Regions from separate parts of the Homo sapiens genome. Here region 1 is linked to region 2. A link means that fine-mapping ties the variant in region 2 to the expression of a gene that starts in the linked region. Tissue or cell type: thyroid. Region 2 holds a variant in brackets; the other region holds the start of a gene. All regions are shown on one strand. Distances are from middle to middle.

Region 1 (2,683 bases), 64 kb before region 2:
TGTCCTGCCTTATTCTGGGTGATGAGGGAAGGCTTGCTTCCCATGCAAAATGGGATTTGAGCTCACACTTCCAGTAACAGTCAAGATGGAGGGTAGGAATGGGAAGGGAAGGGCATTCTAGATTTAGAGAACAGCATTTTTAGCATGTAGGGCTGAGGTAGAGTCAGGGAATGAATGGGAGTGATAAGAAGCCACAGAGGCAAGTGGGAGCCAAATACCAGTCTCCAGTGCAGCAGCGTTGGATGGATCAGAGCTGGAAGGAAGAAAAGCCCACATTACCAGGGTTAGGGGGTGTGTGAGGGGGTGGGGATTTTAAGGGTCGTCCAATCCAGTGGCATTTAGTACTGTCTCCCTTCCCCCAGGGCTCATTTTGGAATTTTATGGTAGGTATTTTGTTATATTTGGTGTCAGTGGTAACATTGCTACTAGCGTTGTGGATAGGAGCCAGGATCCTGCAATGTACAGGACAGTCCTGCCCACTGAAAAAATGTTCACACTTTCAAATGTCTTGCTGAACATTCAGGTAGGTGAAAATTCTATTTCTAAATTATCTGAATCTAAACCTGTTTTCTGGATAAACATGTATTTTTGCACAGTTTTAACATACACTGATCTTCCAGGAATGTAATTATTGTATAATCAAGAGACGATTGTCCTGTGTTTCATTCAGAACTTCACGAAAACATGTTTGCCATTTTGGATCATAATTTTGTGACTTTTGCAACAATGTAAGTCACAGCTTTGTGGCTGTGGCACTCAGACAACGTCTATGTGTAAAGGCGACCACCTTATTAGGTCTCCTGCAGCAGCCAAGACCAAACACATTGAAGTATGTGTTTTTAAACGACAGATGACGGTCCTCTTTTTTTTCTCTTTCATTACACTTAAGGCATAACATTAGTTTTTAATATGTAGGTGTGTATGTTATGTATGATTTTCTAGGCCATTATATATGAATATCAGGTCAGGAGAATAAGATGGACATTACAAACTATTTGTTAGAAAAAGGGGGCATTGGGTGTGACAGCGCGCCATCCACTGGTCCATTTCCAAGACTCCCACACGTGGCTGCACCTGCAGCTTCACCTCCCCGGGCTGGGTCCCCGCTTGGCTCTGATTCTTACCTGCCCCATTCCCCAGGGGTAACAGTCACCGTGGGCCAGACCCGAGCTAGCCGACAGGGATGCGGCCACAGCTGGCCGGGCGTGACCACCACCGAGGCGCAGCGACCTTGCTCCTAGAGAGGCCCGGCCGCCTGGTGACGCACTTCCGGCAGCGCCGGGGAGCAGTCCGCTACGGAGGTGAGTGCAGGGCTCCGGGCGCTGTGTGCCGTGCCCTGTCCCCCAGGCTCTGGGTCCGGTTGAGACGCACTCCCACCCTGGGTGCTGCAGGGTCTCCCGTGGCCTACGCTGCCAGGAGGCCCAGGCTGGGAGAGGGAGCAGGGCGGCGGCCCGGGGTGCTCTTCCGCGCTCCTCGACTCCAGCTTTGGTCTTTGTGGCTCAATAGCTTGCGCCCATTGGAAGGGGAAACGCACGTTGCTGTCCCAGCCACGAGGCCCTGAGCATTTAGCACTTGGTCGACGGGGGAAGATGTGTCGGTGCAGCTAAAAGATGGAATATTTGCGGGCGTGAAGCGGCCCGAGGTGATACCACAAGTCTTTTGACATGCTGAGGTCTGGCAGGAACATTAACCTATGTGCATCCCGAGTATGGACCGTGTGCTCCCAGGCTCCTGACATAGGGTCATGAATTAGGGCCGAGTGGGAGCGCAGAGCCCCTCCCAGTCACCCGGCAGCAGAAGCAGCCCGGCTTTTGGAGGACATTGTCTCCTGGAGCAGTGTCAGTCCCAAAAGGTAACTCAGCCCTGCTTCTCTCGGCTCAGGGTTGACAGTGACCTGGGAATGACTTCTACAACGTAATTACGAATTCACTCAGTTTTAGAATATATTTAGTAGTCTCAGAATCGCTAATTCATACCCCCATGAAAAGCAAATTTACTACCTAAAGTACAGTACTTGGATACAGGTCTTTTTGTCTTTACTCTTATGGTATTTAGTCAAAATACTGTTTTCCAAAGTTGCTTACCCCTTTTCTTTCCTACCACTTAAGTGTGGTTATGTTCACTGTAGTATAGTTAAGCACATTGGCTGTTCTTTGTATTACATTTTGGGTCCTCAATTTCACCCCATCCTTGCTGGTTTATATATTTATTTAAAATATATATTTATATGTTACATATATAGTAGTAAACATCCATGAACACACCACCCAATTAAGAAAGAGAAGATTGCCAGTACTGCTGAATTTATCAATGTGTTCCTCCTCCTCAACCCAACTCCCAGCCTCCAACCCCTAGAGGTAACAGTTATATTGACTTTTGTGTTAATTGTAGCCCTGTTATTTTAAAAAATAATTACATATGCATGTATCTGTAAGCAATGTACTTAAATTTTTTTTTTGAGCTTCATATAAATGGCACCATTGTGTGTATAAGTCATCTGGGACTCGCATAATTCAATGTTAAGTTTCCAAATTCATTCTGTGTGTAGCTTCTGGGTAATGTTCCATTGTAAAAACTGTATGAAAATTTATCGATGTATTTTCAATGGACATGTGGGTTGTTTTCAGTGTTTTGTTATTAAAATGTGCTGATAATATTTTTGTACGTACTTCCTACATATGAG
Region 2 (2,683 bases):
GGCGGGCGCCTGTAACCCAGCTACTCGGGAGGCTGGGGCAGAGAGTGGTGTGAACCCAGGAGGCGGAGCTTGCAGTGAGCCGAGATCGCACCACTGCACTCCAGCCTGGGCGACAGAGACAGACTCCATCTCAAAAAAAAAAAAAAAAACCACAGCTATGAAGTCTCTGTCATCTACAGATAGTGTTTGCTTTTCTCTGATGCTTGCTTGAAGGTTCTCCTCTAAGCTACAGGCTGCAGTTGGTGTCATCAACGAAAAAGAACAGTTTTAGAGCCTGGTGGTAAATGACTGGACCAGATACTTCCAACTGTCTGCATTTTATAGACTCGTGAGCAAGGCATCTGAACTGATATCACTTAAGCAGCTCTCAGATTGTAACAGTGGACTGAATCAGGATTTCTAGGACTCTTTTTTTTTTTTTTTTGACAATGATGTCGTTTATTTAAAATGTTTACTCCAAGAAATATATATAATAAGACAATTACAGCACTAAACCAGGCACCTTCGACCAAATCACAACCTCCTGTTTGATTCCCCTTCATGCTAAGCCTCTTTCAAATTCTTTTTCCTGAGCTGGAAGACCAGTTGGATGCCCACAGGGTCAGCGCCAAGCACATTCCCAGCTGGGCAACTGTGTACCTTTCTCTAGGAGTGCACGACACCCTTCCCCCACAACTCCTTGTTTTAAAGGATTTAACCCATTAGGAAGCCCATTTTTCAATCTAAGCCAGAAGGAGGTGCAGGACAAGGCAGTCTTCACTTTGAAGGTCCCTTTCCTGCTCCAGTCCCTGGGCTGGGGTTCTAGAAGAGGCTGGCTGCTGGGTTTACATGAGGCCACCGAAGATCTAAGTTCTAGGACTCTTTTTTAATCCACAAGCAGACGACTTCATGAAAGCAGAGAATGCGGATCCAAGATCCAGTGGAACAAGAATTTATTTCATGGGACTGCATGAGGTGCTGTGGGAATTTCATCATAGTTATTTCTTTAAACTCTTGTTAATGTTGTTTCAATGTTCTATTTTCAGGCTCTAAGAGGAAACCTTTTCTCTTCTTTGGCTCTCTGTAACCCACCACAATTTAGTGGACTCTGCTTTTATATACTGCAATACAGCATTTTAAAATGAGACTTGGCTCTGGCTGGTATGCAGGGGTACCTCATTGCGGTTTTAATTTGCATTTCCCTAATGGCTGTTGATGTTCATCATATTTTATGTGTTTGTTTGCCACTCATGTATCTTCTTCATCAAAGGGTTAGGAAGTAAGATTCTTTTTTTTTTTTTTTTTTTTTGAGACAGAGTCT[T/C]GCTCTATTGCCTAGGCTGGAGCGCAGTGGTGTGATGTTGGCTCGCTGCAGCCTCCACCTCCCAGGCTCAAGTGATCCTCCTGTTTCAGCCTCCTGAATAGCTGGGACTACGGGCACGAGCCACCACACCCGGCTAATTTTTTGTATTTTTAGTAGAGAGAGGATTTCGCCATGTTGGCCAGGCTGGTCTCGAACTCCTGACCTCGGGTTATCCACGCCTTGGACTCCCAAAGTGCTGGGATTACAGGCGTGAGCCACCGTGCACGGCTTAGGAAGTAAGATTCTGAAGGGCACTTTGATGCCATCTGTTCCAAGCTCCCCATTCTACAGATGGGGGACTTGAGATCCAAAATGAGATGTCTGGCCATTTTCCCACAGCCAACTGTGGTCTCTGAGTGGAAACCAAGGACAGATGTGGGGAGGACGGAGCACATTGAGCCAGGCCTCTGGGCAGTCTCTGGAGCCCCCGTCTCTTCGGCTTTTCTTCTGCCTCACTGTGGGATTGGTATGTGCAGGTCAGCTCAGCACAGCTGCTCCCTTGGCATACAGTTCGGAGGATTCACACCTGCTAAGCAGGAAAGAGTGTACCTAGTAGGCACCTTGTCTAAGGACTTCCAAACATGGAAGTACCTGAGTTCCTGTGAGCCCTGGGGCAGCTGCAGAACATACACCCAGAAGTAGAGGCAGCATCTTCTGATCCGGAGGTCAGAAGTCCAAACTGGATCTCACTTGGCTAAAATCAAGGTCTTGGCAGGGCTGTGTTCCCTCTGGCGGCTCCAGAGGAGGATCTCTTTCCCTGCCTTTTCCAGCTTCTAGACGCCACCTCTTCCATCTTCAAAGCCTGTTATGGCCGGTGGAGGATTTCTTCCATTGCGTCACTCTGACCCTGACAATTCTGCCTCCCTCCCTCACACAGAAGGGCCCCTGTGGTTACATTGGCCCACCCAAACAAGCCAGGATATCCCCCTATTTTATGGTCATCTGATTAGCAACCTTAATTCCCTTCTGCCACGTGAGATCATGTATTCACCATGCCCCAGGATTAGGACACGGACAGCTTTGGTGGGGATTATTCAGCCCTCCACAGCTTGCTTGGCCCCTGAGACTTGATTGTTCTGGAGAGGAGAGGGGTACTCGGTGAGGGGGAGCCCTGAAAGGGGCAGGTACCCCTAGGTGTGTGGGTTCAGTGGATGTAGGCAGGAAGAGCAATACATGAGTCAGCCACCCTTGTGGGCTTCTACTGGGGGAGCCGCCAAAACCTGTCTCACATGGTCAACGTCCTGTGGAGAAAAATATGGCCGGGGAGGTTGTAGAGTGTAGGGTGGTGGAAGGCTGCGGCCTAATCGGGTTTCAGTGAGAGAGGTGACATTTGAGCCAAGCCTG

Evidence for each region. PIP is the estimated chance that this variant, and not a neighbour inherited with it, causes the effect.
Region 1: ZNF23 starts here. The variant in region 2 is fine-mapped to the expression of ZNF23 in thyroid (GTEx, PIP above 0.99).

What each region holds. Positions count from the first base shown.
Region 1 is chr16:71,460,828-71,463,510 of GRCh38, reverse strand. It overlaps ZNF23 (zinc finger protein 23), which reads left to right and starts at 1,264. Exons shown (of 5, transcript NM_001381984.1): 1 at 1,264-1,301. LOC124903709 (a long non-coding RNA gene) reads right to left here and starts at 1,199. Exons shown (of 2, transcript XR_007065105.1): 1 at 219-1,199. RefSeq lists enhancers at 1,146-1,305, 1,576-1,665.
Region 2 is chr16:71,396,804-71,399,486 of GRCh38, reverse strand. No RefSeq gene overlaps it. Among named protein-coding and RNA genes, the nearest start is that of LINC02136, 28 kb to the left of the region's middle. The variant T/C (reference allele first, on the strand shown) is at 1,301.